Regions from separate parts of the Homo sapiens genome. Here all the other regions are linked to region 2. The links come from fine-mapping of genetic effects on gene expression. A gene starts in region 2. Each other region holds a variant in brackets. All regions are shown on one strand. Distances are from middle to middle.

Region 1 (8,182 bases), 50 kb before region 2:
CCATCTCACGCCAGTTAGAATGGCGATCATCAAAAAGTCAGGAAACAACAGGTGCTGGAGAGGATGTGGAGAAATAGGAACACTTTTATACTGTTGGTGGGACTGTAAACTAGTTCAACCATTGTGGAAGACAGTGTGGCGATTCCTCAAGGATCTAGAACTAGAAATACCATTTGACCCAGCCATTCCATTTACTGGATATATACCCAAAGATTATAAATCATGCTGCTATAAAGACATGCATATGTATGTTTACTGCGGCGCTATGCACAATAACAAAGACTTGGAACCAACCCAAATGTCCAACAATGATAGACTGGATCAAGAAAATGTGGCACATATACACCATGGAATACTATGCAGCCATAAAAAAGGATGAGTTCATGTCCTTTGTAGGGACATGGACAAAGCTGGAAACCATCATTCTGAGCAAACTATTCCAAGGACAGAAAACCAAACACCGCATGTTCTCACTCATAGGTGGGAAGTGAACAATGAGAACACTTGGACACAGGATGGGGAACATCACACACCGGGGCCTGTCATGGGGTGGGGGAAGGGGGGAGAGATAGCATTAGGAGATATATCCAATGTAAATGATGAGTTAATGGGTGCAGCACACCAACATGGCACACATGCACACACATGTAACAAACCCGCACGTTGTGCACATGTACCCTAGAACTTAAAGTATAATAATAAAAATAAAAAAATAAAAATAAAAAAAGAAGTAAAGTCTTAAGAACACAAAAGAATAGTAATATTCTCCTGTTTTCTCTCTGAAGCTAAGGTACACAGCGCCACCTAATGGTAAAAACAAGGCCACCATTCACTACAAGTAAGGCTTTTGGTAAATACAGAATAATTTACCTGAGGCTGAAGCAAAACAACCAGGGATGTGGGGAGACCAGATTGTGCTATAAATAATACTTTCATGGCCTCTAAAGGTGCACAGAGACTTTCCAACAGTTGGATCCCACTACAAATAAATGAATAGATCAATTACTTGAGGGATAAATTCAAATTTATGCTTTTACATATACTACATACACCAATAAACTATATACATTTATATATATGCATACAATATATATACAGATCTCAAGGATTTTTAAAGATCTGTTTTGATATAAAGCAAGACTGTATTTAAGGGCCAAACTAATGCTGAGCTAACTATTAGTTCACAGCCAAAAGATTAGAAAATTTTAAGTTCTAATAAGTGTTTTAATTTTTTTTTTAAAAGAAAGCTCAGCTGTCGAATCATAGAGCTACAGAAGTATGTTGGAAAAAGAGAAGAAAATTTAGTGGAAGCTCTAGAGAAGGGAATATTCGTTTTTGAATACAATAATGCTAACATACCAATTTGACAGTTTGATCCCATGAGCCAGACACCACAAGCTGTTCACCTCTGGTTTGGCTCCAATCAACACTATACACCTAAAAACATTGAAAAGTGTTTAGAAAGCAAAAGACCATCAAGTTCAACATTGCATTTTATCTCTTGTTACATAACAATGAGAGGCAGAACAACTAATTTACTATGTCAAAACATCAAATAATTCCTATCCATCTCAACAAGGTGTCTGAGAAATGAAAAGTTGATCTTGTCCATTCCTCCAGACTTATTCCTTACAGATAAGACTCCATTCTGCTTTCACAGAATTCTACAGTATACTTCCAAACCTTCTTCACTAAAACAAATTATACATATTTTAAAACCTACCAACAAATCACTGTTTGCAGCCCCACGAAGAAATGTCAAAGCAGATTAGAAAGTTAGTCATCTAAAAAAGCTTGCTGGGTCAATGTTTATTGGAAAGCATTAAAATTCAATTAATATCCCTATCTGGCCTTTCTTAGAAAAAGCTTGCAGGAACCAGGTGATCCTTCCAGATCTCTTGGTAAACAGTTTTAGTTATCCAATGCTGCTATTCTAAAGTATATGCTTCACTGCTCTCAGTGAACCATTTCAAATGAACTACTTGAAAACTTTTGGAAATGTTTTCATTCTTTCATTTTATACAACAGATTATACACAGATCACTGCTGTAAACTAAGTTCAACAAAATATGTGCATAATTATACTTTATGAAATTAGTCCTGACAAGGACCTGAGTATATGCCATTGGTATATCACATTGGTGATCAGCCAGCAGGTTACTTTGAATCTTACTACTCTCTCCCACATATACGTAGGAAGTATGAGTATCTGGGCTTAAGCCGCTTACATGTGGGTTACTTTCTCTCTGCTGCCCAGTACTATATTGAGCCATGTTGGAGGCTGAGGAAAAAAAACATCAGTAATACTGATCCCGTCACTTATAGGTGGAATCTAAAAAAGTCAAACTTAGAGAAACATACAGTAGAGTAGTGTTTGCCAGGGGCTGGGGGTGGGGGAAATGGGGATATGTTGGTCAAAGGATACAAACTTTTAGTTATAAGATGAATAATTTCTAGAGATTCAATGTACACCATGGTAACTATTATAAATAATAATGTATTACTGAATACTTGAAATTTGCTGAGAGTAGATCTGAAATGTTCTTATCTCACACACAAGAAAATGGTAACCATTCAAGTGATGGATATGTTAATTAGCTTGACTGTAGGAATCATTACTCAAGATATATTTAGATCAAAACCCTAAGCTGTACAACTTAGATTTTTCTTTTTTTTTTTCCAAAACAGGGTCTTGCGCAGTCGCCCAGGCTGGAGTGCAGTGGGCACAATCTCAGCTCACTGCAGCGATGACCTCCTGGGCTCAAGCGGTCCTCCCACACCTCAGCCTCCTAAGTAGCTGGAGTCACGCTTGCGTGCCACCACACCCAGCTAATTTTTTTCTTATTTTCTGTAGAGACAGTGTCTCACCATGTTCCCCAGGCTGGTCTCAAACTCCTAGGCTCAAGCAGTCCTACCGCCTCAGCCTCCCAAAGTGCTAGGTTTACAGGCATGAGCCACCGTGCCCAGCCTACAAATTTTTATTTGCCAATCATAATAAACCTGGAAAAAAGTTTAATAAAATTAATATTAAGCTTCAAAAAAAGTAAAATATCGATATTTTGTTCATAATGGGTTTTTTGCATTAATTTTTATTTTTAAAAACATTAACAAATTATCTTGATTATCAAGTTTTTTGGGGCCCCCTTAAATTGTGTACCTAGAGTGAGTGCCTCACACATTCTACCCTAGTCCTGGCCCTGCCTCTGCCCATATTCACGCAAAAGACAGAAGAGTAGTTGGAACACTAAAGGAAGCACAATCCAGCAACAGACAGCAGCTATAAAAGGAATAGAAGGGCCAGTGAAAACCAAAGAGCTGCTGTGGCCATCTGTTAGTTATGGATAGAAAAAAGGCTGGTTTGGAAGCAATCACTGAAGATCTTGAGAGCTAAAGAGTTTGATTTTATCCTCTAAATTTCGCCTACAAAGGACCATATAGTAAATGGTAAGTTTCTTCAAAAAAGGTACATTTCTTCTATAAAGGGCCATATGGTAAATACTTTAGATTTTACAGGCTATTTGGTCACTGTCACAACTACTAAACCCAGCTCTTATAGCACACACCAAGCAGCCATAGTCAATACCGAATGAATGCGCATGGCTTGATTCCAAAAAAACTTTATTTGTAAATCTAACTGCAGGCCAGATTTGGTCCTGGTCCACATGACGTAGTTTGCCAACCCCTGCTCTAGGCTGATGTAAACAGTCAAAAATAAAAATAGCAAACCTTTATTGAACACTCTGAGTGTCAGATCCTGTTCATAAGCACTTTATGTATTTTATTTCATTTAATCTTCATTTATATGAAGTAGATACTATATCAAGGCCCAGAGAGGTTAAGTAACTTGTCCAGAGTCCCAAAGCTAGTAAGGTGCAGATATGAAATCTGAACGTGGGCAGCCTAATTGCAGAGTCCACTTTTAATCGCAATGTGAGGCTATCTGTACAGCATGCTACTTGAGGGCACTGTTGAATCAGAACTTCTTGGCTACCTTAAGCCATGATATCAAGGAACTAAAGCTCTACCCCTGCTGGTTTCACCCTTTACTGGAGCTACATTTGGGCCTAGATTGATTCCACTGTGTTTTCATGAATTACCTATACACAGATCTTAAAGCCCCTCTCCACTTGTGAATTTCCATTTATCCATCAAGACGTGCCCCATTACATCCCTTACGAAATAAGCCTCCCCTGATAAGTCCTTCAATGAGTCATATGCTGCCTTCAACAGCAGCTCACACCTACTTCTAACTCAGCATTTACCATATTTTATTTACTAAAAAGAATGTTACATAACTCACATACCTGCTAGATTTTGGAGACTCCTAATGAGCAAAACATCTTGTACATCTATGTTCATCACAGTAAAATAGGCACTCAAACATTGGTTAAAATAATTTAACCAATTAAATTTTTCTTTACAACCTGAATCACTGCTAGGTAGGTACAGAGAACTACTAAGTAAATACTCATCATCAGCTCAGACTCCACTGCCTCCACACATTTCCAGTGTGATGCAGCAGGTGACACCTTATGACTACTCACCTTCTAAAACTGCAGGAGCCTCCACCGGCTCAAGAGAATCCAGCCTGAATCAACATCAAAGATAGAAGGTAAGAAAACCATGCTGATGGCATTGTTGCTGTCAGCTGTCTTCTGTTGCACAACCAAGTAGCAAGCATTAGGTCTCTATGACAGAGCTAAAGATAGGACACACATGGTGGTGAAGTTAAAAATGGGATCA[T/C]AAAGAAGGAAATAGGCTGAGTGTGGTGGCTCACGCCTGTAATCCCAGCACTTTGGGAGGCCAAGGCGGGCAGGTCACTTGAGGCCAGGAGTTCAAGACCAGCCTGGCCAACATGGTGAAACCCCGTCTCTACTAAACATATAAAATTTAGCCAGGTGTGATGGCAGGCACCTGCAGTCTCAGCTACTCAGGAGGCTGAGGCAGGAGAATCGCTCCCAGGAGGTGGAGGTTGTAGTGAGCCAAGATTGTGCCACTGCACTTTAAGCTGGGTGACAGAGTGAGAACCTGTCTCAAAAAAAAAAAAAAGAAAAAGAAAAGAAAGGCAACTCAATACTATGTTTAAAATATTAGGACATGGGAAAGGAACTAACAGATCAGGAGACTGTGTGGGTTTTTTTTTTTAATTTAAAAAAAGAGTAATTACACCAGGCACGGTGGCTCATGCCTGTAATCCCAGCACTTTGGGAGGCCGAGGCAGGAGGACCGCTTGAGGCCACGAGTTCGAGACCAGCCTGGAAAATATGGCGAGACCCCCGTCTCTATAAAAAATTTTAAAAATTAGCCAGGTGTGGTGACCTATAACAGTAGTCCCAGCTACCCAGGAGGCTGGGGTGGGAGGATGGCTTGAGCCCACAAGGTCAAGGTCAAGACAGCAGTGAGCAGTGATCACGCCACTGCATTCCAGCCTGGGTAGCAGAGAAAGACCTTGTCTCAAAAACAAAACAAAACAAACTATAAACATAAGTACAAAAGGGGTGCTTGGATGGAAATTCAGCTTCGTGCTCAGAAGAGAAAGACTGAGGCAGGGCCCTGAGGGCTGGCTAAAATGTCAATAGGCAAAAAGCAGAGGTGAAACAGTAACCAGAAAACTTCCTCAAACACATAAATGGGAATATACAGCACCCTAGGGATCGGGGGTAGTGAACACTGCAAGATAACACCAAGGTTTTGTGCCTGAGGACTGTCAGTGATGGCAGCATTAACAAAAGTGAAAGACTGGAGGAAGGAAAATAATGTAATTTTATATATACTGAGTTTGAGGTGACAGCAAGACAGGGTTTGGGCATTAACCTCAAGCTCTGAAAAAAGTTCACAGCCAGAGAGATGTTTGAGAAACAGCTGAAAAGGGAAGAATGAATTCCATTATCCCAACTTCAATCAATTCACTCATCTATTCAACAAATATTTATTGAGCACCTACTATGTACTAGGCACGGGGGGAAAGGAGGTTACAATTTTAGATAAGACCAGCCCCCATGGATCTTATATTTTAGCAGCAGCAAACATGCTATAAATAAATGTATAATTTCAAGTTGCAATTTTTTTAAAAACTACAAAGAAAAAGCAGAGTAAGGAGAACAGAAAATAATGACAAGGGCAGGGGGTCACTTCTCAACAAAATGGCCAGGAAAGACCTCTCTGTGCAGAGACTTGAGTGCAGTTAAAGACTGAACTCTGCAGACCCGAGATGAAAGGCTCAGGTTACAGAGAACAGGGAAAGACCTTAACAGGGAACAAGCTTGCCAGATTCAGGGAAGAGCAAGGTTGAATAGCTGGGAGGGATAAGATCCTAAAGGGCTATGGCTAAGAATTTGTCTATGATTTCTCTTAAGAGGTTACAACCATCAACCATAAGTTACCACTTAGATTATAACATCCTTCTAACTGCTCTCCCCATCCATTTTTGTTTACCTCCAATCCATTATCCACACTGCATAAAAAGTAATCTTTAGAAAATACAAATTAAATGTCACTCCCCTGTGCAAAGCCTTTCAGTGGTTTCACACTATATGTAGCTCCAACTTAGCATCTTCGCTCAACATTATGTGAGATTCATCCATGCTGATTCTTACTACCCAAAGGTCAAAATCATGCAAAACTATGCATGACTTAGGGATGCATACATATGTAGTAAAAATAGAAAGAAAAGCAAAAAATATATAAATAGAAAATTCAGGCTAGTGGTTACTCCTGGGAAGAAGCGAGGAAGAAAAAAAAGCAGAGAGAAGAACGATAAGACTAGAAAGGGTAAGCAGGGGACGCTAATGGTATAGGTAATGTTTCATTTCTTAAGCTAGATGGTGAATATGTGTGTTCAATATACCATTTTTACATCTTACATGTATTTTATAATGTATAAAATATTTCATTGATTTTTAAAATCTGCAATGTCTTTCCACTGATCTTGGCACAATGGCCAAAACGCTGACAGCTCTAAGCACACAGGCTCTATCCTCTCTGGTCAAGCATGCTCTTTCATTTGCCTCTAACACTACTACCCTGGCCTCTCCACTTGAATAATTCATTCCAACTTCCCCTTTAGACCAAAGGATGCCCTCCCTGCCCCTTCCCCAGACAAATCCTCCCTTCCCATAACACTGCATACATTCACAGCGCTTACCACATTAGACATTAGACAACCAGAATCCTGCCTCCCCAGACAGTGCAAGGACCCCAGGAGGGTAAGGGCATGCCTAAGGTGTTTTGTCTTCCCAGCTAGCCTGGTACAGTATCTTGCACACAGTAGAGTTAATAAAAGTTTCTGGAATGAATGAAGGAAAAGAGAAACAAATCTGAATGAAAAGCACATCTTCTATTAGTCTCCTCTTCCATCTCTTCCTTATTCCCAACCTCCCCGTCCACACCCACTCAAATAGTGGGCATGGCAAATGGTCAAATTAAATATAAAAAGGAAGAGAGATATGCAGTGCCTGACTTTATGCTTTAAGAGCAGGGTCCTCTAGAGGCCTATCTGATTAAATTACTCTTGGCAGTGGTGAAGAAAATTAACCAGGAAAATGGGAAAAGAAAAAAACCCACCGCACAATGTTTTGTGCTGCTTTATGAAATCTGAACCTCATCAAAACCACAGTTTGAGAGGACAAATTTTATTACTGAAACCAATTCCCAAAGAGCTCATATTTAATCTACTGTAAAGCATTGCCCTTTTTAAGTTGGTCTACTTAATTAAAAATTGTCAAATAAAAAACTATGTCCAGAATTTTTATTATTATCTGTATGAATACAAAGGAAAGGGTCACTGACTTTTAATTACTGAGTGATTAGAAAGGGCTATATATTTCTTTTAAGGTGAAACTTAAATTTTCTCTTTTTTTTCTCTTTTGAGACAGGATCTCACTCTGTTACCCAGGCTGGAGTGCAGTGCCACGAACGAGCACAGCTCACTGCAGCCTCCACCTTCTGGGCTCAATTGATCCTCCCACCTCAACCTCCCGGGTAGCTGGGACCACAGGTGCACACCACAACACCAGCTAATTTTTTAATTTTTTGTAGAGACAGGGTTTTACCATGTTACCCAGGCTGGTCTCTAAATCCTGGGCTCATGTAATCCCCCTGCCTAGGCCTTCCAAAGTGCTGGAATTACATGCATGAGCCACCATACCCAGCCCTGAAACTTAAATTTTCAGGTTTTTTCATT
Region 2 (8,182 bases):
GGCAACAGTAACCCAAACAGCACGGTACTGGTACAAAAACAGACACTCAGACTGATGGAACGGAGTAGAGAACTCAGAAATAAAGCCGTACACCTACCGCCATCTGATCTTCAACAAAGTCGATAAAAATAAGCAATGGGGAAGGACTCCCTGTTCAATAAGTGGTGCTGGCTAGCCTTATGCAGAATAAAACTGGACCCCTACCCATCACCATATACAAAAATTCACTCAAGATGGGTTAAAGATTTAAATGTAAGACCTCAAACCCTAGGAATCATAGAAGAAAACCTAGGAAATACCATTCTAGACATCGGCCTTGGGAAAGAATTTATGACTAAGTCCTGAAAAGCAATTTGCAGCAAAACGAAAAACTGACAGACGGGACCTAATCTAAACAGCTTCTGCACAACCAAAGAAACTATGAACAGAGTGTGGTGTTACGATATATATTGGTTTTCATCTGTGGTTTCTGGCTTGTAACTCCCATAACCCTCGTTATAGTCTTCTGTTATGTTGAGTGTGTTAGGCCTCAGAGGCAGGCCTCTAATTTTTTCCTGCTCTCCTTTTACCTGCTAACAACCCCCCACCTTTCTGACTGTGGGTCTTAAGACCTTCCCAGGAGAGGGTCCCATTGGATACACATGGACATAAAGATGGTAACAACAGACACTGCGGACGGGAGGGAAGGAGGGAGCAAGGGTTGAAAAACCAACTGTTGGGTGCTCTTTCTACTACCTGAGTGACAAGAACAATCGTACCCTAAACTTGAGCATCATGCAATATATCCATGTAACCTGCACATGTACCCCCGAATCTAAAATAAAACTTGAAATTACTTTAAAAAAAGCACTATTTTGCACAGCTCAGTGATTTTTAGGAATTCATGTGTGCCTTCACAGTGGGAGTGACTGTGCTCCTCCCAGAGTATTTTCTTCATGTACTTCTTCAAATACCTCCTACACTTCAGAAACTTCTCCAGATTTTCTTTATACCCTTCAACCAAAACAACATGCTGCAACAGCATGAATGTAGAAGCAGAAATGAGAATCCACTGTCATCTATTAAGCCAGACATTAAAAAGATTTGTGAAAATGCACAACGGTGTCACCATTCTTTTTGTTTTGTTTTGCAAAATACCGTTATTTTTCATTAAAAAAATTCACTTCAGCCTTTCAGCTGCCTAATTCAGATCCACAAAAATCCCACAGCCAAAGGGAACCCTGACTGTAGACTCACCCTCTGGATTCCTGTCCTTTCTTCCAGAATCTTGCCAGCTAGTTCCTCATTATCTCATAACCCTATGCTATGGAACATAAATTACCTAAACCGTGCCTTTTAGGTAGAGGGAGAATCTCTGGACCAGCTAGAAGCAGAATTTCAACATTGTATTGGGGTTTGGGTGCCTAACATAAAAAACATATTTAAAGTTAATAAATCAAAAAAGCCAGCAAAGTAAAACAAAAAATAAAAATTGTGTATGAAAATGGCTCTGAAAGGATCTGGAAGGAAAGCACAAAGTGAGAGGGTATAAAAAGTTACAGCTTTGGAAAATAGCTTGATATATAATTTCAGATTTTGTATTTCTACAGTAAAATGCTACTTGAGCATTTAGGCGTTTTAGTTTTCCACACATGAACCTCATCGATTTCCAGAGTTTGTGGTTCTTGGTGAGGATAGCGGGGAGGATTATCTTACTCCTACAAGGTTTTGGAGGTTTGACAAGTTGTTGAAAATATTAAAAGGCACATAACTATTACTAGCTCAGCAACATTTTGTTTCAGTATAATCACTGATTCACTACCTATTTTACTATTGATATTAATTCCAAAAGCTAGTGTGGGTCACATAGATTCCATTTTACATGAAGAATATAAAGTTTCCTTACTAGAAATTTACTTCTATTATTTTATACACCTTTAGAAAAATCTAATGTCACATTGATTCATTGATACAGTTGTGTAGCGGCTAGGTGTTTTTCCTCATGACTATTTCCTTCCTTCCTTTAATTATTATTTTTTTTTAAGATGGGGGTCTCACTATGTTGTCCAGGCTGATCTTGAACTCTTGGGCTCAAGCAATCCTCCCACCTTGGAGAAAATTAAAGAACTCTTTCCTTTAATTCTTTTTCTTTTTCTTTTTTTAGATGGAGTCTCGCTCTGTCGCCCAGTCTAGAGTGCAGTGTCGCCATCTCGGCTCACTGCAACCTCCACCTCCCGGGTTCAAACGATTCTCCTGTCTCAGCCTCTCGAGTAGCTGGGATTACAGGCGGCTGCCACCACGTCCAGCTAATTTTTGTATTTTTAGTAGAGACGGGGGTTTCACCATGTTGGCCAGGCTGGTCTTGAACTCCTGACCTCAAGTGATCTGCCCGCCTCGGCCTCCCAAAGTGTTGGGATTACAGGCGTGAGCCACTGCGCCCAGACTTTCCTTTAATTCTTTACTATTCAGCTATTTTATCCTTCCTTCTTACCCAGTTTGAAATGTAATTCATGGCTGGGCTGGGTGGTTCACGCCTGTAATCCCAGCACTTTGGGAGGCCGACGCGGGCATATCACCTGAGGTCAGGAGTTAGAGACCAGCCTGGCCAACATGGTGAACCCCACACCCCTCCCCCTCCCGTCTCTACTAAAAATACAAAATTAGCCTGGTGTGGTGGCGCATGCCTGTAATCCCAGCTATTCGAAAGGCTGAGGCAGGGGAATCGCTTGAACCCGGGAGGCAGAGGTCGCAGGGAGTCGAAATCGCGCCATTGCACTCCAGCCCGGGCAAGAAGAGCGAAACTCCGTCTCAAAAAAAAAAAAAAGTAATTTACATTTTCTTCTGCCTTTTTCACAGGACTCACTAGTCTCAGTTCCTGGAGATGGGAAGTACAAAACCTGTTTCTTTACTCAGTTGTAACTTGCACTGGCTTTCCTAACAATTACAGCATTCTGGGGTTCTCTGGGAACTTACACATCTGTTCTTTGCTCCCCAAATAAGCAGGTACTTTTTTTGATTGCTCTTAAACAATCTGGGTATTTCCCTCCCGGCCTCGCGTGATGCAGTTTAAAAAATAGAATAGGTCACGTTATTCCCCTGTTTCATCTTGTTGATAATTTGTGGAGTCGGGTAGAGACTCCATCTTCTATCTTAAGTATCTGGCGCTTGTGGGGGAATTAAGATCCTAAATGAGAATACTAAGTCCTTCGGCAGTTGGCACTAATCAATTACTCATTACTGATAACGGAATGAGCCACTGGAAATTTTAAAAGGAAAAGTACATGGGAGAACCTGATCAATTTAGCCAGCCACTTCTGGAGTGCCACAGTCACTAATGAAGCAACCTCCAGTGCAGGCCCTGGCTCCAGGGCGCTATGTACAACCTCCTGCCTCGCGCAACGTGGGTCTCCCGGAGCCTATCCTGCCAGCGCCGCGCACGGTCCCAGTCCACCAGGCCGCCAAGGCCCGGAGGGGGGCGCCCTAGTCGCGGGGAACACTGGAAATGCTTCAGGGGCGGACTCCGAAGACCGAGTATTGCCTCGAGGGACTTTCTGCGCCACCCCGTAATCGCTTGCGCTCCAGGTCTTCGTAGGTGGGGGCCGGGTGGGTGAAGACTGGGACCCTATGCCACGCGCAGCACTCAGAGGAGGGCTGGGGTCCCAGGGCCGCAGCGCGGTCAGTTCAGTCCGGGCTCGAGCTTCCTAGCAGCGCCCTCCTTGGGGGCTGGCCCTGACCCTCGGTGCCGCTACGAGTGGGTGGCCAGAAGCTGGTGGTGGAGAGGGAGAGCGTCTGCAAGGAACGACGAGGCTGGCGCCGGGACCACGCGGCGGAGGCGATCGAAAGAGAAACGAGGCCAGGCAAGGAGGAGGAAATCCACCCGATGAAGGCGAGCTGCCGCCTAAGAGGGAGGAGGGTCCTTTCGGCTGCCGCTGCTGCTGTTCCGGGACGCCGCCTGGGGAGCCAGCCCGCTCGTAAGGTGCGCGCCAGGTAGCTCCGCACCCAGGGGGCGCCCTTCCTGGCCCCTCCCAGAGCGGCCGGGACGGAAGGAGCTGCGCGGCGCGGCGCGGCGCGGCGCGGCGGGTGGCGAGGGCGGGCTGCACCCCGAGCGCGGCGCCCTTGAGCTGCACCGCGGCGCAGGTTTGCGAGCCGACTTGTCAGCCGGCCAAGAAAAGGAAGCTCCGTCCCTTCCCGCTCACCCGGCTTCCCCACCCCTTGTACTCTAAACTCTGCAGAGGGCGAGCGGCGCGGCCACGGAGGCGCCGAGGAGGAGCGAGCCGCCGCCGGGCAGCGGCGTGCCCTCGGGGGAGAGGGCGCCGGAGAGGAGGCGGCGGCGCGGCGGCGAGGGCGCGGCGCGCGATGGCAGCTGCTTAGCCCGGCGGGCGCGGAGCAGCCCCGAGCTGTGGCTGGCCAGGCGGTGCGGCTGGGCGGGGGACGCCGCCGCCGTTGCTGCCCGGCCCGGAGAGATGAGCACGGAGGCGGACGAGGGCATCACTTTCTCTGTGCCACCCTTCGCCCCCTCGGGCTTCTGCACCATCCCCGAGGGCGGCATCTGCAGGAGGGGAGGAGCGGCGGCGGTGGGCGAGGGCGAGGAGCACCAGCTGCCACCGCCGCCGCCGGGCAGCTTCTGGAACGTGGAGAGCGCCGCTGCCCCTGGCATCGGTTGTCCGGCGGCCACCTCCTCGAGCAGTGCCACCCGAGGCCGGGGCAGCTCTGTTGGCGGGGGCAGCCGACGGACCACGGTGGCATATGTGATCAACGAAGCGAGCCAAGGGCAACTGGTGGTGGCCGAGAGCGAGGCCCTGCAGAGCTTGCGGGAGGCGTGCGAGACAGTGGGCGCCACCCTGGAAACCCTGCATTTTGGGAAACTCGACTTTGGAGAAACCACCGTGCTGGACCGCTTTTACAATGCAGGTGCGTGTGTGACCCCTTTCCCATCCCGCGCGGTCGGGACCCGCGTTTAATCTGGCGGTCTTCGGGGCATTTCATTTTTCTGGGCGGGAAGCATTTACTTCTTGCCCCACTTTGGGGGCAGCGAGCGCCGCTGCGTGACTGCTCCTGTCGCTCGCCGCTCCGGAGAGAGCGTGTGTGCTTGTGCAAGAGTCTGTGTGTACTTGTGCGATAGACCTATGGATCCACCCACCGCCCAGCGCTGGAGCCCTGGGTCCATGCGATCGACTTGAACTGTTCTCCAGCAGTGTGAGATATTTGCCCCAGTCAGTCTTTCTCCTTTCAGTGTCTCGGTTTCGCTTCTGTGAGGTTTGGTCCCTGTTTTCTTTCTGCATATACCTGTGACCGTTTTAGATGAGGTTCTCCTTTTCTCTGTGTAGTTTTGAGAGTACGGGAACGATGACATACCATGCACGCAGAGTGTAACTATATTAATTTGCATGCCATGTGATGATCTTCCCAACTCACCTTACCTTCGATAAGTTTTAGTAGCTTGAATTTCCTCTCACCAACCCAGACTTTGAAGTAATTACAGTGCTTCCAAAGGCAATAACATTACAACTTACACTGAACTTGTGTGTTATCTTTGTAAGGATTTTGGTGAAAGAACCAGGGCCTGTTTTTTATTACCCCATAAACCATGGTGGGCTAGAAAGTTTGTAATTTAACATTGTCTAAAACACCTGTATGCTATCCTAATAATAAGATTAGTTTCGCCATTAAAGTGATTGCTAGCATAATCCATGAAAGAAATGTATCTTTCAACCTATCTCAAATTTCAGAAAATGTTAAGGCAGTTCTAGTAACTGAAGCACTTAGCTGTTAGCAAATGTTAGGAATAATACCATATTATGGAAATTAACCTTTAGTCCCCTGTACGTCCAGTGTTGAGAATATATACATATTTATGTTTACATTTGTGGGTAAAAACTTGGTTTAGTAGTTTCAAAACAATACACTTCTTGCATTTGTGATCACATAAAAGGCTTTATTTTCCAATCTTGTTTTCAATTCTGATTCTCTTTAGTGTCTTCCAAACACCTGAAGTGGGCTTATGTCAGTTTTGGAATTCAGCCAAAGCTGAATATTTTGAGAACAACAAGACCTTCATGTTAAGGAAGCCAGACTAAATAAACTAGGACTTTCTCGTTCTGGTATTTTTAAAATAGTTTTGGTCTTCATAACTGAGCATGGCTATAATATAGCTTGATTCTTTGGGTAGCTTGCTATAAAAGTTACATCAACATAACTTTTCTAAAAATTGTAGCACTCTTATTTTTGGATTATAATTTGGAAGAAACTTCAAAGAACTAAAAGATATGAGAGGAAAATACCCAACTGAACACTTGAGCCTATTTTTATTGCACTGATTGGGCGTTTTTTTCCTAGGGCTCTAGAAAAAAAATGTTAAACTCTAAGCTAATTTGAAAGAAACTTTCCTAACAAGGCTTGGTTTCTGTTATTCTCCAAATACTGTCTCTGGGAAAGGGAGAGAGAATGATTAGAAGGGAGCTGAAGTTTGAGTGTATTTCATTGAATCCTCCAAACAAGCCTGTGAAGGAAGTACTTACCTTCTTAGGTGAGAAAACCCAGGGATCCCTAACTGGCCCTAGGATTCATAGGGAGTAAGTGGCCAATGCAGGATTCCACTTCAGGTGGCTGACCCTAAAAGGTTGTGCTTGGGCCAGGCGTGGTGGCTCACGCCTGTAATCCCAGCACTTTCGGAGGCCAAGGCGGGTGGATCACCTGAGGTCAGGAGTTCCAGGCCAGCCTCCTGGCCAACATGGTGAAACCCTGTCTCTACTAAAATGACAAAAATTAGCCAGGCATGGTGGTGCACACCTGTAGTCCTAGCTACTCAGGAGGCTGAGGCAGGATAATCACTTGAACCTGGGAGGCAGAGGTTGCAGTGAGCTGAGATTGTACCACTGCACACTCCAGACTGGGTGACAGAATGAGACTCTGTCTTAAAAAAAAAAAAAAAAAAAAAAAAAAAAAGAGGTTGTGCTTGGCCCTTGCTTCCTCCATTTAGGTGGGCTGAGTTACTCTCAGAATCAAGGGAAGCTCCCTATCTTGGAATCATGTGAGTGAGCTGGCAAAGATCTTACCAGGCATTTAGGTGTGTATGGAATAGTGGGGAGGGCATGCTCTCGGAAGCCTCTTTTTCCTGCGCCCACTCTGTCCCTTCGTACTGCTTCTTTCAACCTAGACAGGTCTCAGTTTAACCCCTGCCCATCTGGATGGCATGAACTCCCAGGATGAGTGCCCTCTCAGTCAGCATGAAAGCATGAAAATGTGACAGAATGAAGGTAGTGCATCAGTTTTATCCAAACCCTTTGTTTCTATTTTATTTTATTTGTTTTAGAGACAAGGTCTCACTCTGTTGCCCAGCCTGGAGTGCAGTGGCATGATCATGGTTCGCTGCTAGCTCGAACTCCTGGGCTCTAGTGATCCTCCTGCCTCAGCCTCCCGAGTAGCTGGGACTACAGGCATGAGCCACCACGCTGGGCTAATTTTATTTTATTTTACTATGTTTTTTTTGTAGAGACGGGGTCTTGCTATGTTGCCCAGACAGGTCTCAAACCTGGCCTCAAGCAGTCCTCCTGCCTTGGCCTCCCAAAGTATTGGGATTACAGGCGTGAGCCACCGCACCCAGCCTCCCATCTTTAAGTTTACTTGTACCCAATGTTTAGCTCCCACTTATGAGTGAGAACATTCAATATCTGGTTTGGTGTCTTTTTGGTAGAACAATTTATTTTCCTTTGGGTATATACCTAGTAATGGGATTGCTGGGTCGAACGGTAGTTCAGCTCTTAGTTCTTTGAGAACTCTCCAAATTACTTTCCACGGTGGCAGGACAAATTTACATTCTCACCAACAGTGTGTAAGTGTTCCCTTTTCTCTGCAGCCTCGCCAACATCTGTTATTTTTTGACTTTTTAACAAAAGCCATTCTGACTGGTGTGAGATGTTATCTCATTGTGGTTTTGATTTGCATTTCTCTGATGATTAGTGATGATGAACATTTTTTCATAAGTTTGTTGGCTGCTTGTATGCCTTCTTCTGAGAAGTGTCTGTTCATATCTTTCGCCTACTTTTTAACGGGGTTATTTGTTGTTTTGCTTGTTGATTTGTAGACCTTTCTTAAATGCGTAGTTTGTGAATATTTTCTCCCATTCTGAGGGTTGTCTTTGTACTCTCTTAATAGTGTCTCTTGTTGTGTAGAAGCTCTTTAGTTTAATTAGGTCCCATTTGTC
Region 3 (8,182 bases), 190 kb after region 2:
ATCCCTGCAGTCCTCCGCTGCCAGACTGCCAGGCCAACAGGAAGTTTGAAATGGAAACATGCTTCCCAAGTAGTAAAACTCACACATCTGCTACTTTCTAAGGCAGAGGACTTAAAAAAAAATTATTTATTTATTTATTTATTTTTTGTGCTCCCCTGTGGGATCCAAGGCAAAGGACTTTTTCTTTTCTTTTTTTTTCTTTTTTTCTTTCTTTCTTTCTTCTTTTTTTTTGTGGAGACAGAGTCTCGATCTATCACCCAGGCTGGAGTGCAGTGGCGCGATCTCGGCTCACTGCAACCTCCGTCTCCTGAGTTCAAGCAATTCTCGTGCCTCAGCCTCCTGAGTAGCTGGGATTGCAGGCACACACCATGACACCCAGCTAATTTTTTATATTTTAGTACAGACGGGGTTTCACCATGCTGCCCAGGCTGGTCTCAAACTCCTGAGCTCAGGCCCTCCGCCTGCCTTGGCCTCCCAAAGTGTTGGGATTACCGGCATGAGCCACGCGTTTGGCCTGAGAGGACTTTTGATGGTAATTGTTATTCCTCTCCCTGCTGCAGACCATGTTTCTAGCTCTTATTCCATCTGTGCATAGCCTCTTGTGAGGGGCCATGTGTTGTTACAGACCTTCTGCTTTTGTGCAAAGCTTGGCTTTATGCTTGAAGACAATCTGATAGGACACTGCTGGTATAAAAATGAGTAGTGTGACCAAACCTCAGAGAGCAATGGCAGGTGCCAAGAGAGGTGCCTTTCTTGCCATGAGTGGATGTCTTTCTCTTCTTGGCCAGTCTTTCAGGTTTTCTCCAGTGTCTAGGACTTATCTGAAATGCTGCTTTATAATTCACGAATGCAATGATTATTATACCATGTGTTTTTTTGTCACATTAGGCCAGTCTAAGCTGTGCACAGGAAGTTGCTATCTTAGAGAGATGACATGACATAGACTGTGGCACCAGTTTACAGTGTTTGAATCCAGGCTCCAACATGGTCAAGATATTTGAGACTTTGAGCAAATTATTTAACCTGCTTGTGCCTCAGTTTCCTCATCTATAAAATAAGGATAAAAATAGTACCTGTCAGCCAAGCGTGGTGGCTCACACCTATAATCCCAGCACTTTGGGAGGCTGAGGCGGGCAGATCACCTGAGGCCAGGAGTTCAAGACCAGCCTGGCCAACATGGTGAAACCTCATCTCTACTAAAAAAAAAAAAAAAAAATTAGGGGGGCACAGTGGCAGGCACCTGTAATCCCAGCTACTTGGGAGGCTGAGGCAGGAGAATCACTTGGACTGGGGAGATGGAGGTTGCAGTGAGTCAAGATCGCACCACTGCACTCCAACCTGGGCAAAAAATGAGACTCCATCTTAAAAAAAAAAAAAAAGTACCTGTATAATAAGAGCTTTTTGAGGAGTGTATGAGGTAAAATGTACCAAGCACTTAGAACTGTGTCTGACACATGGTATCGGCTATATAATTCTTACAAATAATTATATATTGTTTATATTACAATGAATTTACATAAGCTGTATAAGAACAAAAGGATTTCCTTTGAAAATTTGCTCTGTACTAAAAAATGAAAATACCATTAATTTTTTTTAGAATAGCAGTAATAAGTAAATTCTAATTGTTATAAAAATATTGTTTAATTTTAAAGTGCTTTTAAATATCTCTTTTAATGCAGGTGATTTGAGACAGGGAAGATATTCACAAATCATGTAATAGGGAAAAGAACATAGGCTTTAATCCGAACAATTCAGGTTCAAATCCCAGATCTCCCTTTTCTTAGCCTTGTTACCTCATCCTTTCTAAGCCTTATTTTCCTCATTGGTGTAACAAGGAAAATATTTAATCCGCTGGATTGTTGGAAGGATTTGATGAGATCTGTAAGTGGAGAAACCCCAGCACAATGCCCAGCACTTAGCTACTGTGAGCAACGCAGTGGTCTCAGCTCGGTGGCTGAGCATGGTGGCTCGTGGCTGAAATCCCAGCACTCTGGGAGGCTGAGGTGGGTGGATTGCTTGAGCCCAGGAGTTTGGACCAGCCTGTGCGACATGGCAAAACCCCATCTCTACAAAAAGTACAAAAAATTAGCCAGGCGTGGTGGCATATGCCTGTAGTCCGAGCTACCTCAGGAGGCTGAGGTGAAAGACTCGCTTGAGCCTGGGAGGTCGAGACTGCAGTGAGCTGAGATTGCACCACTCTGCACTCCAGCCTGGGTGACAGAGTGAGATCCTGTCTCAAAAAAAAGAAAGAAAGAAAGAAAAATAAAGATCCTTTTTGTGTGCCAATGTACCAATATGTTCTAAAGCTTTGAAGGACTAAATTATTACTTCATAGTGCTGCCTACTGTCTTCAACTAATTATTCTGCCTGTGCCATTGGTAAAGGTACCAAGGCACTCTGTTGATCTTCTATAACCTGCAGCAAACACATCTTATCTCCCTTTGAGAAAAGCCATAAGTTTGTGTTGTATGATAAGGGATCTTGTTGCATTGGGGGGTCAAGTTATGGAAGCTGGAGTTCAGGTGCTGAGATGTTCACTCAGAAGGCACATTGCACTTTTTATATTTATGTCTTAGGTGGGAATGTTTAAAGTCCACCCTGAGATCCCAGAGTCCATGTCTGCAGAGGCCAAGGCATTCATACTGAAATGTTTTGAACCAGATCCTGACAAGAGAGCCTGTGCTAACGACTTGCTTGTTGATGAGTTTTTAAAAGTTTCAAGCAAAAAGAAAAAGACACAACCTAAGCTTTCAGGTATGTGGTTGCATTGAAGAGGATATAGTCTGAGTCCTTCAATCCTAAGCTTTTAAGATGGAAGAATTTTCCGGAAGTAAACTAACCTGTTTACAGATATCACTGGAAATTGGTATAAATATTAGCACAGTGTTCTCAGGCATTTGGTTGCAGTATCAGGGAGCTGTATTCCATCAATTTCACAAGTGCTGGGACCTCATACATAATAGTCTTCAATCACATAGTTAGTAGGTAGTTAATATGTCACCATCTATATCACTCTAACATTGTGGATACTAAGGTTCAAGTGTAAGAGGGGTTAAATTTAGCCTTTTAGAGCTGAAACCCCAGATTACCACAAATGGGCCTACAGAGCCATTATAGAGCTGTTGGATTTCCAAGCCCTGTAGGTAATAGGTTCTTTTAAGGCAGTAGAAAATACCTGTTGCCTCTTAGGGTATATACTTCTGAATAATTACACCCAAAAAAAGGCAAGAAGGAAAAAGAAAGAGAGAAAAGATTGCCAGCTATAAATAAAACAGTAGTGTAAAAATATAAGTACATTATATTTTTGCAATAATTGTCTATAACTCAGAAAAAAAAGTAAAGGTTCCAATTGTTCTTGGCGTTTTTTGATGTTTATATTGGAGGAGAATGGGCAGATTGAATGTTTGGAAAGGACATTGACCCCATTTCAGGCATTCATTTTTTGTTGATTTCTCAGTTTAACAACAAACCCAGCACGTGCTTATTCATGGCTGTTTGCTTTTCTTTCCACAGCTCTTTCAGCTGGATCAAATGGTGAGTTTGTTTTTACTTTGCCCATTGAGCTGAGACCTGG[T/C]GTCTGGTGTGATAAACTCCAGACTTCCCATCAAGTAGCCTCATGCTCTGCTCCTGGCTTACATGGGGGGAAAGGAGGGTGCGGTACTAGATACTATAAGGATGTGTGCAGCTGCAAGCCTGGCTGGGCTTATTCCTTTGGAAATCCTTCATCTTTCTCTTTCATGAGTGGGGATGGCTTAAATTTTTTCTCCCTAAAAGCAAGATGGTGACTGTGTTTTTGACAGCTTCAATTTGAGTGAAGTAAATGCTTCTTTATCTAGGAACCAGTTGACTACCTAATGTATTTCTTGTGGAAAATGTAAATGCCAGATACCTTCCTCTGTCATCTTTGGGGTGATACATTCTATTTTTAGTGGCCAGGAGTTATTGTGCCTTTGTTTTCTAACGTTGGCTTTTGCGGATCATAACTAGGAAGGTAGAGAAAGTAGATTTGCTCTAAGAAGATCCATTAAAGCATTTAGAAGAATAATAAAGAAATGAACATGAGGCTGGGCATGGTGGTTCACGCCTATAGTCTTAGCACTTTGGGAGGCCGAGATGGTCAGATTGCTTGAGCTCAGGAATTCAATACCAGCCTGGGCAATATGGTGAGACCCCCATCTCTACTAAAAATACAGAAAAATAGCTGGGTGCGGTGGTGCATGCCTATGGTCCCAGCTACTAGGGAGGCTGAGGTGGGAGGATCGCTTGAGACTGGGGTGGTGGAGGTTGTAGTGAGCCGTGATTATACCACTGCACTCCAGCCTGGGTGACAGAGCGAGACCCTGTCTCAAAAAAAAAAAAAAAAAAAAATTAACAGCATGGTGTTGGATTTTCCTAAGTTGGATGTGTGGTTGATCAAACAGTTCAGGGGGCTTAATGTTCATTGTGCATGGGTTCTGCAGGCCAAGGGCAGGTTTTTGCAGGTTCCTCTGATGCCCCAAAGCCAGTCAGCCCAGAGTAGAGGCCTGTTAATTGGGGTTTCCTGGGTACAGCCTCTCTACTTTTTCTTCTTCCATTTCTTCCATTCTGAGAATCTGGGGAAACTCAGAAGAAGACAGGCACACCCTTGTACCTCTTTTCTCCACAGACAGCCTGGGCTCCGGAAGGCAGCCTTGCATTGTCACAAAGTCGGCCCTGCAGTGCTTGGCAACCTTCTGACCAGCCTGCTTCTGGTGTCCTAAAATGGGCACTGACTTCAGAATTACACAGAAGTGGGTTCTGATCCCATTGACCCACTTTCTAAATATGGGACATGCATATTTCTTCTGTCATTCGGTGCTGGTAACATTACCTACTTCACAGATTTGGTTCTGGGAATAAAATAAAATAATATCCTAAAAGAGCCTTGGAGCTGTGCCTGGAAGTTTAATCCATGATTGTTTTATCCCTTCCACATGGCTTGGTTTTTGTTCGCAGGAAATAGTTTCCCATCACACACACGCATTTAACTTCTGTGAACTCAACCATACACACTTGGCAAGAGCGTGCATATATGAGAGAGAGAGAGAGAGAGAGAGAGAGATCCTTTAAGTGGACAGTTCTATGTCTTCTCAGTGACTATGTACCTTGGGGTGAGCGTGAGATGGACGGTGTAAACCTGCTGAACTCTAGTCAGTCAGGTTCCCACTGCCCTTTCGCCGTTCTTGCTTACATATGGACTTGGGCCTAGAAAAAGGGGCAGTCCCCAATTCCCTGCATGATTAAACTGTTCAGACTCTCAGCTAAAACAATATCATTACATGGATGATGTGCCTCCTCCCTCTCCTTCCTAGGAGAGCAGGACAGATGTGCTAACCAAATTAGGAGCTAAAATCCACGCCCCCCCCCCCTTTTTTTTTTGAGACGGAGTCCTAGGCTGGAGTGCAGTGGCATAATCTCAGCTCACTGCAACCTCTGCCTCCCAGGCTCAAGCGATCCTCCCACCTCACCCTCCTGAGTAGCTGGGACTGTAGGTGCCCACTACCACGCCCAGCTAATTTTTGTATTTTTAGTAAAGACGGGGTTTCGCCATGTTGGCCAGGCTGGTCTGGAACTCCTGGCCTCAAGTGATCTACCACCTCGGCCTCCCAAAGTGCTGGGATTACATGTGCCACCATGCCTTGCCTAAAATCCCATTTGATTGTTCCCAGGTATTATAGGAAATGGCCTGCCTCATGTCAATTGAAACAATGACCTATTAGCTCGTCTTACTCTCCTTCTAGATGAGTACAAGATACAGGCCTCTTCCTTCCCCAGGTACTTTCTATAGGCCATATATGTGTTTCTGTCCAGAGCACAGGCCCACCTCTCAAGGTTCTCTACCTCCCATAACTGCACTTGGCTTCCCCTCAAGAGGGGAGTAAGAGGGTGGTGACAATGAGACCCCCTTCCCCTTTAGAGAGGGACATGACTTGTCTCATCCTGACTGCTCTTCCATGGCCACACACAGACCCAGAGATTTAAGTAATTCATGTCAGCTTAAATATTAATTGTACAGTTATGGTGTGCACAGGAAATGTGCTAGGCCCTGAACGTATAAGGATGATAAAGACAGAGTTCCTGATTTTAAAGAGCCATTGACCTTATAGGAGAAAAACACTGGAAAAAATCATCTCCACCATAGTATAGTTTAGTCTGTGCAGAGGAGTCAAAAGGGAGAGACAGTGACTGAAGTCAGTCTGAGAATGCTGTTTCAAGGCAGACTTTCCAGTGAGGTGCACCTGATGAGTAAGGACAAATATGAACTTAACAGGTGAATGGGGAGTGGAGATCCAGGTGAGGCGACTTCTCGCATGAGTTAATGCCAGGATGTGTGAAACTTTACTGTGTGTTAAGGGAGGCTTGCTGGCTCAGCAGCACTGGTGCTTAAAGTAAAAGGGGAGGGATGATGCTGGAGTGGGGAGCAGGCTCAGATCCCAAAGGGCTCCTTATGAAATGTTAAGGAATCAGCAAGGAGGGTTGGGGAGCCGGGGAAAATTTTTATCTGAAATAATATTATAGACCAGCACTGGACCTATGATTCTACAGTAAGAGAAATGTCATTTATCTGCCCTGTCCAATACATTAGCCACTAGTCATATGTGGCTATTAGACACTAAACATGGCTACCATGGCTGAGGCACTGAATTTTTATTATTTAAATGTCAGTGTTAATAACCATATGTGGGTAGTAGTGACCATATTGGACAGTGAAGCTATTGATGGATCATTCCGATGGCTGTGTGAGGATGGTTTATTTAGTAAGATTTATTCCATAACATTTTTAACCCTCTGCTATGCACTTGGCACTAGAATGTAGGCACAAGGCACTAGGAATATAGCTATGCCTCAGTTGGTCCCAGATCCTGCCTGCATGGATCTCTTGCAATGCTTGTTAAAAATTAAAATGCCTGGCCCTTCTCAGAATCTGGAGGTGCAAGCTGGAATTCTGTACTTTTAAGTAAACCCAGATGATTCTTGTCATCACTGCAGTGTGAGAACCACTATTCTATGTTTGGCCAGTTGGAGACTGGAGGCAGGATGGCCAGTTAGGAGACTCTGTGTTGTGGCCAGACTGTTCCTAAACTGTCTAGGAGAAGGAGAACCATAAAGATCCCTAGTGATCATGAATAGCTGTTAGGATCTGAGGCCACCCTCACAGCAATGGAAGGGATTTAGAAAATCCCCGTTTTCCCAAAGCAGGAATGTATCTAATTCCTTAAAGGTCGCACTGTCTCCCTTCCATAGATGGGAGCTCCCAGCAATCTGGAGTCCATAGGGTTGCCAGTCACCCCTCCTGACTCCAGCCTACTCCTGGCCTCTTGGTAAAGCTATCTCTTAGGGGATATGGGGCTCACACCCCTTCCCATCAGCCCCTGAAATAAGGCAATGAGAATCATCTCCTTAGAGACACACCTTTGACATGTCCTATCCTCAGAGAGGTTCATTCAGCCTCTTTTAGACTCTTCGTGGTCAGCCCCATAGAGGAGGGCTTCTTAATACCTGGCAAGATATCAGCAGTAAGGCTGCCTGTGACTGGAAATCCTGCCAGGCTCCTCTCTTGCAGCCTGGGGTCCCAATCACTCACGTGTATGAGCTTATGTTCGAGGAACTTGTAACCTCTGTGATATCTGGAAACTGTCACCGTGCTCCCCTGGAAATAGTTACACTTGAGCTTCTTCCCATTTACAGTGACACAGAAAGGCACTACGCATTCTCACTTGCCTGGAAATCGTCATAACTTAAGAAGGTAGAAATCTCAGGCGTGGATTTGATCATATTTCCACCACAAACGTATAAAGCAAACTGTCTCAGCACCACCTGTCTTGCTCTTTCCACCCCTTACAATAGAGAAAACATCCATTTTCCTACAGAAGGCCAATCCCTCACAGATGAGTTCTGGCTCCTGTGGAGCCCCCGTGACTCCTCCAGCTTCTGCCTCTCCCAGTGAGTTCCATATACACATGCTCTAATGTCTTTTGTCCTAAACCCGTCCTTCCCCTGATCTACAAATGGCCTCACTGGCTGACACCACCACCTTTTTTTGCCCCACATCACAGCTTCCCGTCTTGAAGTACAGTGTCTCCAGATCTCCACCTCTTCCTTCCCACCCATGTAGCGTCTCCCCTTCCACGCGATCACTGGGCCTGCTCTGGCCAAGATCTAA

What was found. PIP is the estimated chance that this variant, and not a neighbour inherited with it, causes the effect. A credible set is the group of variants that fine-mapping cannot tell apart.
Region 1: its variant is the best candidate, but not a certain one, in a credible set for the expression of MAP3K5 in whole blood (TOPMed, PIP 0.53).
Region 3: its variant is the best candidate, but not a certain one, in a credible set for the expression of MAP3K5 in thyroid (GTEx, PIP 0.71).

Annotation. Positions count from the first base shown.
Region 1 is chr6:136,838,870-136,847,051 of GRCh38, reverse strand. PEX7 (peroxisomal biogenesis factor 7) reads right to left here. Exons shown (of 10, transcript NM_000288.4): 4 at 1,360-1,437; 5 at 871-979. Among named protein-coding and RNA genes, the nearest start is that of PEX7, 20 kb to the right of the region's middle. The variant T/C (reference allele first, on the strand shown) is at 4,744.
Region 2 is chr6:136,788,418-136,796,599 of GRCh38, reverse strand. MAP3K5 (mitogen-activated protein kinase kinase kinase 5) reads left to right here and starts at 4,123. Exons shown (of 30, transcript NM_005923.4): 1 at 4,123-4,890. The coding sequence starts at 4,443. RefSeq lists enhancers at 3,043-3,122, 3,493-3,552, 3,663-3,892, 4,683-4,752, 4,858-5,373 and a silencer at 3,913-4,552.
Region 3 is chr6:136,596,374-136,604,555 of GRCh38, reverse strand. It overlaps MAP3K5 (mitogen-activated protein kinase kinase kinase 5), which reads left to right. Exons shown (of 30, transcript NM_005923.4): 20 at 2,577-2,754; 21 at 3,514-3,534. Among named protein-coding and RNA genes, the nearest start is that of MAP3K5-AS1, 29 kb to the left of the region's middle. The variant T/C (reference allele first, on the strand shown) is at 3,575.